Regions from separate parts of the Homo sapiens genome. Here region 2 is linked to region 1. The links come from fine-mapping of genetic effects on gene expression. A gene starts in region 1. The other region holds a variant in brackets. All regions are shown on one strand. Distances are between the middles of the regions. Region 1 holds the start of LINC03014 (long intergenic non-protein coding RNA 3014). Region 2 overlaps LOC105375114 (a long non-coding RNA gene).

Region 1 (5,377 bases):
AAACAGCTCTTCCAGCTAGAGAAAAAAAAATTCTGCATAAATAATTCAGATTGCTGAGCTTGGTCCCTCATGCCTGTAATCCCAGCACCTTGGGAGGCTGAGGCAGCAGTTTGAGACCAACCTGGACAACATAGCGAGAGCTGGTCTCTACAAAAAATACAAAAAATTTAGCCAGGCATGGTGGTGCCTGCCTGTGGTCCCAGCTACGCAGGAGGCTGAGCTGGGAGGATCACCTGAGCCTGGGAGGCTGAGTAAGCCAGGATCACACCACTGCACTCCAGTCTTGGCGATGGACTGAGACCCTGTCTCAATGATCAATAATAATAATAATTCAGACAAACCAGGTCGAAAAATGTCCTGAGACGGTGAACTCAGGACCCAGCTACCTGGGGTGGACACTGTGGCTGATGGACCGGAAAGGGTAACACCAAAGGGCTCTAGGAGGTGTCTCATGTCTGGCTGTTGTCACTCCCCTTGGCCGCTGAAAGCCTTTCTGTTCCCCAGAATCGAGTAAGGAGCTCCTGGACAGAAGTGGGGAAGGAGTCTTCCTGCTCAGGGCTATGTTACTTAACTCCGTTTAAGTGACAGAGCATGAACAGGTCATATTAGTGTCACATGCACCCGATTTCATTCTCCATTTGCAACAATGAAGACTGTATAACGACATTGTTAAATACCCCAGAATTATAATTAAATCTTATTAGCCAATAGAATCTGAGTGTGCTAAAATCTCTATTAGCCGGGACTGATGTAGCCACGATGGCCATGCTCGGCGCGGCGGCTCACACCCGTAATCCCAAAGCATTTCGGGAGGCTGAGGTGGGCGGATCACGACGTCAGGAGTTTGAGACTAGCCTGGCCAACATGATGAAACCCCGTCTCTACCAAAAATACAAAAATTAGCTGGGTGTGGTGGCACGCACCAGTAATCCCCGCTATTTGGGAGGCTGAGGCAGGAGAATTGTTTGAACCCAGGAGGCGGAGGTTGCAGTGAGCCGAGATCCTGCCATCGCACTCCAGCCTGGGGGACAAAGCCAGACTCCATCTTGGGTGGGGGTGGGGAGGAAGAGGAGAGAGACCAAGCAGCAATATCATCGATAACAAATTACAATCCAAATTCTAGGCGGTGTTCTGGGACTGGTTCACATCCAGCTTGGTCTGGCCTTGCCACTCCCACAGGGCAGGACACACTGAGGTCTGCCTGGGGGTGCCTGCTCTGGCGGCTGGGCTCCCCGCTTTCTGCAGGCTCAGGTGCCCCCTATTCCTGCAGCCCTTCCTGGACCCAGCCTGTCCTCATCTCAAACTCGGGGCTGCTGGCCTGAGCTTGATCCCTTCACCGTTTCTCACTAATACGTCACTCTCGCCTCTTAAAAGATGACAAAGACTCTCTCCTTTGACCACACTCGAGTCAGGCTCCTCTGAGCCCTCCCTGTGACCAGTCCCTGACCTTGGCCGGTTTCGGCCGATTTAGCAAGAATCCTGCTGAGTCGGTTTAGTGAAAATCGTCTACTCTTGGTCCCTGATCAAAGTCCTCAACTCCCACCCTCGGTCTGTGACCACACTGCCTGCCTTTTCAGCAAAAATCCTGTCTATGCAGCTAGAACCCGCCTTGCCCCTGACCCTTCCTCTTAGTAATTTTCTCTCCACTCCCGACCCTACGCCTGGGCTGTCAATTCCCACTTTTTCTATCTGGAGTTGAGCCGGATCTGCCTCCCCTAACCCAACATCTCGCTTTAGCAGCCCCCCCACCTTGAATAAAAGCAGCCTTGCCCTCTTTAACAATTAATAAGCACAGACTGGGACAGGACATCCCCCTCCATCCCAGCGCCCATGCACCCTCAGCCACGGTCCTCAGACCTCAAGAAACCCAGCGGGTGACAAGCTTGGGTGTCAGCGGGGCTGGGATTGCTGCTGGGGGCACAGGAGCTCGGGAGCACTTTGCAGGTGAGCAGGGCCTGGACAGGGGCTTCTCTGCAGCCCACCCCTGGGGAGGACTCCGGGCCCTCGCCCTGGACGGCAGAGCTCGTTTTGCTGTTGCCCTACTGTCTCCGCGACCTTGGGGGTTCACTTAGCACCCCCAGGCCAACACCTGGCCTCTCCATGCACCAACACCTGGCCTCTCCTTCCCTGGCCTGCCGCCCTGCCTGTGTCTGGACTGTGGTTCACCGAGTGTGCACGTGGGCCTCGGAGGCTGCCCTATAGAGCCCAAAGTCCCAGGGAGGAGCAAAGGGGACCAAGTGCACACTCACCCAGCTTCCTCTGCCCGGCAACGTCCCTGCCCCCATCTCCCCTCCACCGCCACCAGGGCCTGCATCCCCATCTGCAAAGGGGACAGGGTGCCCACGCCTTCTGAAGCACGCGCTCTCCAGGCCGCTCTCCGGGCGTCACCCCGCCCTGCTCCCCTCGCCCCTGCACAGCCCGAGTCCAGCCTGGTCGCTGCCATCAGGACGATCAGGACCGACCGCCACCATCAGTGGGGACCGGCCAGGGCGGTTAGGCCCGGTCCGGGGCCCCAGGTCCCGCGTCCCCGCCGAGGCCAGGCAGGGAGGCCTGGCTGCCCCGGGCTTTAGAACCAAAATAAGCCCCGAAATGATTGGCGGCGCCCATGCGCCAGGAGAAAACCTAAAGGACGAACGTTCCCGAGTACATATAAGGACGATTAATATTTATTGCACAACTTTTTTTTTTACTTCCTTGTTAAAGAGGAAAACCTTACGCTAAAAATAAAACGACTAGGAGCCCTTGTGCCTGCGTGGGTGGCGCTCGCGCCTTTAAACCTGAAGCCACAGGGGCTCAGCCCCCCACCCGCGCAGGGCGGCTCCTGCGCATGCGTAAACAGAAGGGGTCGGGGCGCGGCCCAAGACGACGCCAAGGGAGCGGACGGGCGGGGAGGAGGTGGCCTCTGCGCAGGCGCAGAGAGGAGCGAGCGACTCCTGCGCAAGCGCAGAGTGAAGGGCCGGGAACAGTGGAGGGTGCGAGGAAGACAATGGGGGAGGACCCTGAGGCGGCCTCTGTGAGCCGACAGGAACACGTGGTCGATCAGAGAGAGACTCGTAAGTGCACGGAGCTGATGAGGTGACTATGGCGTTGCGCAGGCGTCCTGTAGAGGCGGGTTGTCATCGGCGCAGGCGCGGTGTGGAGGAAGCCCCGGCGCCGGCGCAATGAGGAGGCGGCCGGACTCGGCGCTGGCGCAGTGTGGAGGAGGCTCCGGCGCAGGCGCAGACGCAGGGCGGGCAATGGCCGCCTGGGTCTCTCGGGCAGCCCTGCCCACCTCTCTCGCGTCTCCTGGTCTTGGCCTGCGGCTCTCTTTCTGGCAGGTGCCGCGGCGTCTCCTGCGGGCCTGACCGTGTTCTCCCGCCTAGCCAGGCTCTTCTGCGCTCCTTTTTTGTTGAGATTTTTCCATCCCCTGCACAGGAAGTGTCCTTTAATTACTCCAGTGTTTTTTTAGTTACTTTTTAAGAAACATTTTGGACTTTTCGATACAGAATAGTGTCAAAAAAAAAATTTAACCTTCTTCAGGTTATATTTTAGTGAATGATATTAATATATGTTCCAAAGTTGTATGGGATTTCTAAAATTCTAATTTTTCTGAGTATATGCTACCGATCATAATTATGGTTATGTTGTTGTTATAACCAAATTTCTTTGTCAATTGTGTCTTTTTGAGTATTTAAAGTCATTTCCGCAGTTAATTGCTTCATGCTGATGTAGTTTCTGAAAACTTCACAAGCACACAAAAATCCTAGAACATGGTGTCTTTTAGGAGGTTCGTGAACGGATGGGGAGGACCCTGAAAAGCACTGTGGAATACAGGTTTCTAGTAACTTCAAAATCACATCATTTGGACTGGGTAAGAATTGCTGAAACTTTAATGAAAAGACTGACTGGCTTATAAAACTGCTAACCCAAATAGAATAAAAATTAATTGAATACCGAGGAAATGCTTCACCAGGTTTGCATACTTAATCAGCCTATACTGAAATTGTTTAGATATACAATTTGAATGAACTCCATGGTCTAAGTCAAATTACCTGTGATAACCCATCAGTTATCCATGCTATGTGCCCAATTTGGAGAAACAACTGGCACCCAAGAGGACATAAGTCCGATGTTAAGCATGGACTCATGGAGAACCAAGATGGCTGCCTTGTCCTTCGTGAGTCCTTAAAGCTTTTGTTATTAAAAGTTATGCATTCCATGACTCATCCTGGAAAAGATAAAATGATCCAAATTAAATATGTTGGTGTGGTGACTTACAGATTGTTAAAATAGTTTATAAACAATGTTTAGTTTGTCAAACCCATACTCCTGGGAAGTCAATCAAAGCTTCATGTACATTTGGCTACCTGATGAGGCATTTAAACATTTATAAAGGGGTTTCATTCAGTTGTCATTTTCAATGTATGTGTTCTGGTTGTACTAAAGCTTTCCCATGCAGGAGGGCTAATGTTATAACAGTAGATTACTATGTATCAGTGTATTTTCACCAGGTAAAGAGCTTTTTATGGTTCACTGAGGACAATCAACCCCTTCACAATCTAGAACCCAAAGATGGGATCTTCTGAGAACATCAGAGAAACGCTGCCCTTGGCATCATCACTGCAACAAAACATCAGGATCTTGAACCTTGGGGTCATAATCTCACAACTGAGCAGGGTCACTCTTGGAACTCTACATCCATTGAAACCCTTAAGGTAAAGCTAATCAGGGAAGTTTCTCCCCAGAAGAAGATGGCATCCTTGATGTGAGCAGCTCTTTCTGAAGATCATGGATCAAGACTTCTTACTATCATGAGACTCTTATCTTTGAATGTTTTTCCGTTGCTTCCGCCTCTGTGAACAACAGAAGTGAGAAGGGGGTCTGTTTTGTGCACTTATGGGGTATACTTTTATTTGTGAAGGGCTTTGCAGCCAGCTTTATACATGGATAATCTTATAACTTGATAGATAAAGATGAAGGCCCAGTGTATCATAGGTGAGAAACTTCAATGGTACATATGGTGCCTCATAATCATTCAGAAGCAGAACATTGGTTCACTCCTCTTAACCCACAGCATGGGTTAAAGAGACCATTGCCAAGAGGCCTTCCCTCTTCTAGAAGGGCATCATTTGTTAGGTCCTTTTTCCATGGTTTGGAATTAAAAAGGCAATGACTAGAAACATATCCCTCATGGTAGACTCTGTAGCAGATTCTACTGTAAAGGCTACACAACAGATGTTAAATTCTCTTGTGAAAGTTATGCTAAAAAATAGAATTGGCTAAACAGGAAAGTACCTGTGCAGATGCTGGCACTTAAGGCCTATGGAGAAAACATCAGGTGTTATAGAGAGTCTGTTGTAGGGAATTAACGAAAAGACCACTGAGTTAAGTCAAAGAA
Region 2 (5,377 bases), 35 kb after region 1:
GGGGGGATCGGCGGCTCCCGGGGGGCTGTGTCGGGGGGATCGGCGGCTCCCGGGGGGCTGTGTCGGGGGGATCGGCGGCTCCCGGGGGGCTGTGTCGGGGGGATCGGCGGCTCCCGGGGGGCTGTGTCGGGGGGATCGGCGGCTCCCGGGGGGCTGTGTCGGGGGGATCGGCGGCTGCCGGGGGGCTGTGGGATGGTGCCCCCGTCCCAGGGCTCCCGCACGGGAGGGCTTTGCACGTCCACCCCTCCTTTCCTTGACCAAACCCGGTTCTTATCCAGTCTTGTCTCTTCCTTTCTTTCTTTCTAAGCCCCCATGACCCAAGTCGGGGCTCTAGGGTGAGGGCTGCGTGTTCTGCTCCATGCAGCTGTCTGGACACTGCTGGACGAGGGCCTGTCTCCTGCGGGCTCCCACCCATTGTGGCGCAGGTTTACCCAGCCCTGCTTCACCAAAACATGACTTTATAAAGAAGAGTTATTTCTCAAACTGGGAGAAATCACTGCATTTGGTCAAACAATTATATATATATATATATATATATTTTTTTTTTTTTAACACAGAGTCTTGCTCTGTGGCCCAGGCTGGAGTACAATGGCGTGATCTCAGCTCACTGCAACCTCCGCCTCCTGGATTCAAGTGATTCTCCTGCCTCAGCCTCCTGAGTAGCTGGGATTATAGGCGCGCGCCACCACGCCTGGCTAATTTTTGTAATTTTAGTAGAGACAGTGTTTCACCATGTTGGTCAGGCTGGTCTCGAACTCCTGACCTCATGATCCACCCATCTCGGCCTCCGGAAGTGCTGGGATTACAGGGGTGAGCCAGCACGCCCGGCGGATTTATATTTGTAAAATCAGCTCTGCTCTGCTAAACAAATAATTAAAGAAAAGGTGAACACAAGACAGTGTAGACTGTTTAGGTGGCACCAAGAGAACCAGGGCCAGGGGTTGAGCCAGGATGAACACCAGGGGTCAAGGCCACAGCCAGGAGGGCCAAGGTGGGTGCCAGCTGTTGTGGGTGAGGCCAAGCCGGAGTGGGATCAGGGGTGACACTAATCCCTGGAGGAGAGACAAAGAGGGGGATGGGGGCTCAGGGAGTTGGGCCTTGAGGGACTTGCTATCTGATGAAAGGACGGACACGACCCACCAGATGAGGTGGACGGGCCTGGTAAGTGCCTGTCAAGGGTGGTGTGGAACAGAGAGGGGGCTCCTGTCTCACAGTGGGCAGCAGCCCAGCGTCTTTGAGACGGCGTGGAGATGGGCCTAGATCCTAGATGCTGAGAGGAGGCGTCCACACGGCTGAGGGAGGCCAGGCAGAGGCCATAGTGTGGGTGAAGGCCAGAGAATGGGCGAGCTCAGGGAACTGGGGGCCTCGGGGCAGAGCCCGGAGCAGAATGATGGGTGTGGGTGCAGGTGGGGCACAGGCTGGAGGTGTTGGGAAGAAGCCTGCGAGCCTGGTGCTGAGTGCCTGGCTAGCACCGAGTTCACCCGAGGAGCTCCTGAGTGTGGAGGGGAGATGGGGCTGGACCGGGACACTGGTGAGTCCATTCCTGGATGGGCAGAACTCAGCCACAGAGACCAGCCAGCAGGTTATGGGAAAGAGCCCCTGTGGAGGGCAAGGAGGGCGAGGGAGGGAAAAGGGTCTGCTTCGCTTTTTCCCGAGGACGTTGAAGGAAGGGAGAGGGCTTATGGAGAAGAGCAGGCCTCCATGTCCAGAGCAGGAATCCGAAAGTGGAATGTGTTTGCCAGATATTCTCTCTCCTCTGTCTCTCCCACTTCTCTCTGCCTGTATCTCTGTCTCCTCTTTGTCTCTCCCTCTCCCTCTCTGTCTCCTCTTTGTCTCTCCCTCTCCCTCTCTGTCTCCTCTTTGTCTCTCCCTCTCCCTCTCTGTCTCTGTTCTCGCTGCAGGAGCCCGTCCATATCCCTCATCCAGCAAACTCCATGGCCATGCAGGGCTCCTCAGGACACTGCAGTTGTGCCCTGTTTAAAACAATAACTGTTTCTCAAGTTTCTTGGAGTGAAGCCACCATGACCTTTGCAACAGACGAAGCCTACACTTTTTCCAAGTGTGACTCAAAGGACAAAAGGTTCATGCACAAGGCAGTTCTAAAAGTGGATGGGTAATTGCTGGTTCTGCTTCCTGTAAGGATTTTGTAAGATCACACCAAACCCACTCCCTTACAGAAAACAGCTTCAAAATCTGTACACAATGCAAACAGGCTGCTTGTGGGCGTTGGAGAGTGAACAGCAAGACGGACCTGGGGTGTACACGGGGGATAAAGGAGTTGCAGGAAGCACGTTCTCTTTGACCGTGGCTGTTAGCCTGAGCACTATGTAGTTAGGGCATGAGGAGCTGGGGGTCCTCAGGGAAGACCACAGTCTTCATGGCCTGGAACAGGAGCAGGACGAAATTGGGGAAGCTGTGGCCAGTGGAGGGGGGGAGCGTCCAGAAGGGGAAACTTGGCGGACTCTACTCATGTTTCCGACTGGCCCTGAACTGCACACACTCAAAGCAGATAAAAGAAGCCCAGCTAAAGGCTGGTACAAAATGACCTTCTTTATAATGCTGGTTGTGTTCATTGTTCAATATTAATATAGCTGTTCCCGCTTTTTTTTTTTTTGACTAGTGTTAGTACAGTGTATCTTTTAAAATCCCATTAGTTTTCATGTATTTGTGAATTTATATTTAAAGTGGGTTTTGGGTAGGCAGCAATTAGTTGGGTCTTGCTTTGTTATTAAGTCTGACAAACTGCCACTGAATTAGACCAATGGTTATAGATCATTTTCATCTACCATCACTGTTGATAATGGTTGGACTTAAACCACCATCTTGCTATTTGCATTTTATTTATCCTGTCTACTTTTTGTTTCCTGTTCCTCTTAGCCAGCCTTCTTCTGGACTGGGTATTTTTTAATCATCCCATTTAATCACTTCTGTTGGCTTATTCCCCATAACTCTGT[C/T]TGTACATATGTATGTGTGCGTGTGTGTGTATACATTTTAGGGTTTATAGTGTGCACCTTCAACTTATCATAATCTATCTTCAAATAATATTACACTACATCATGATGGTTTAATAACCTTACAGCAGCACACTTCCATTCCCTGCCCTCCTTCATGTCCTTGTGGGCACATATTTTATTTCTCTACATGTTCTATACCCAGCAAAACATGCTTTTCCTTCCTGTGCTTCTATCGGGTCTCCTATAATGTCATTTTCCTCTTGTCCAAAGGACTTTCTTTAATATCTCTTAGTGCTTATCTGCTGGTATGATTAATATTTTAGCTTTTATATGTCTGAAAAACTTGATATCTCACCCTGTTTCTACCTTTGTTGCCAGGTACAGAATCACAAATCAACAGGCTTTTCCCGGCAGTACTTTGCAGAGCTTGTTCCACTGTCCTCTAGCTCGCCTCATTTTCAAGGAGAAACCTGTCGTCATCCTTGTCTTTGTTCCTCTGTACCCAGCACGTCTCTTTTCTTCTGCCTGCTGTTAAGATTGTCTCGTTCTTACCCAGTTTAAGCAGTTTGGTTAAGATGTGCCTTCTTCGTACTTCATACTTTTTGGACTGGGATATGTAGCTTTTAAAAAGCAAATTTCAAAAGATTTCAGTCATTATGTCCTCCTTTTTTTTCTGTTTTTTTTTCTTTGTTTTCTTTCTGGGACTCTAAATGTATGAATTTTAGGCCAATTGAAGTTGCCCCCCAATTAGCTTTCTGCTCCTTTTGAAGGGGTCTATTTTCTGTCTGTGTTTCACTTTGGATGGTTTCTATTATATACCTTTAAGTTCATTAATCTTTCCTTTTGTAGTGTCTGTCTAATCTCATCATCTCATCCAGTGAATTTTCTTTATCTCAGAAATGGTTTCATCTCTAAAAGTTAGAATTGGGACTTTTTAATGTTTTTCATATCTCTGCTTAACGTTATCATGTGGAATAGAGTGATAATAACTACAGTTCATCTGTGTCTAGGAATGCCCTCATCTGTGCCATTTGTGAATTAGTTTCAATTTGTTGATATTCCTCATTACATGATGTGTTTTCCTGCCTCTTTGCATACTTGGTGATTTTTTACTGTATGCTAGACATCATGTACTTTTCCTTGTTAGATCCTGGATAGTTTTGCACTCCTAAAATTATTTTAAAACTTTTCAGGGATGAAGTTACTTTACTTGGAAACAATTTGATATATTTGAGGCTTGATTTTAAGCTTTTTTGGGTGGGGCCTAAATTAGTCTAGGACTGATTATGCTCTACTACTGAGGTGATACCATGCTGAAAAAGCTTAATAAGGAGAAAGATCAATCAATAAATATTCACGTATATTCACAAAATATAATGAGGAGAAAAATCAATCAGTAAATATTCACGTAACCCTAAAAAAAGTTAAGAAATGAGAAACAAAGGGGGGAACTGGAGGGTATGTATAGAGAGCGAGGCATAAAATTACAGACCCAGACATAACCATGTCAATACTTATTTAAATATGAGTGGACCAAAGATTTCAGGTAAAACGCAGAGGTTGTCAGAATAGATATGAAAACAAGACCCACACACATGCTGTCTTCCAAAATTGCACTTGAAGAACAGAGACACAGGTAGCTTTAAATGACATTAAAGTTAAAGCATAAACACTGGAAAGGGAGAAGAAGAACTGCCTCTTTATGCAGATATCATGAATCATGTATGAGGAAGTATCTTAAGAAACTTACAAACAACTAGCATAGGCACTGAGAAAGCGTGGTCTACTCATCAACCACAAACAGGAATGAAGCCCTAACATGCCACAATATGGATGAACCTTGAAACTGAAAACATGATGAGTGAAAGAAGACGGACACAAAGGGCCGCATGTTATATGATTCCAGTTATACGAAATGGGCAGATCTAAAGAGGCAGAACGCAGGTTAGTGGTGACAGGAGCTGGGGGAAGGGAGGAACAGAGAGTGACACCTCGATTGATGTGGTGTCTCCTTTCTTGGTGATGCGAATGTCCTGGGGCCGACAACGTGGTGAACGCACTGGATGCCACTGAATTGTGCACTTCAAAATTGTGAAAATAGTGAATTTTATAATATGTGAATTTTACCACCATAAAAACCAAACTATTAGTACAAATAAAATTAGTTTAGCCAAGTTGCAGCATTTAACTTTCATAGAAAAATCGATTGTATGTCTTTGCTCATCAATATACTACCGTGCCACTTATGGTCCTTTTGAAGAAATGAGACAGCTGATGCTAAGATTTACATGGAAAGACAAAAGGGTTAAAATATCCAGAAACAACTTTGAAAAATAAGAACAAGGTTGTGGGGCCCACGCTACTTGATTTCAAAAATTACTATACAGGTATGGTAATCACGACAGTGTGGTTTTGGCATCAGG

Evidence for each region. PIP is the estimated chance that this variant, and not a neighbour inherited with it, causes the effect.
Region 2: its variant is fine-mapped to the expression of LINC03014 in whole blood (INTERVAL, PIP above 0.99).

The regions. Positions count from the first base shown.
Region 1 is chr7:147,005-152,381 of GRCh38, reverse strand. LINC03014 (long intergenic non-protein coding RNA 3014) reads right to left here and starts at 2,664. Exons shown (of 2, transcript NR_108065.1): 1 at 2,250-2,664. LINC03015 (long intergenic non-protein coding RNA 3015) reads left to right here and starts at 2,944. Exons shown (of 3, transcript NR_134325.1): 1 at 2,944-3,053; 2 at 3,764-3,850. RefSeq lists an enhancer at 2,919-3,213.
Region 2 is chr7:112,422-117,798 of GRCh38, reverse strand. LOC105375114 (a long non-coding RNA gene) reads left to right here. Exons shown (of 3, transcript XR_926959.3): 3 at 1,902-5,143. Among named protein-coding and RNA genes, the nearest start is that of LINC03015, 34 kb to the left of the region's middle. The variant C/T (reference allele first, on the strand shown) is at 2,955.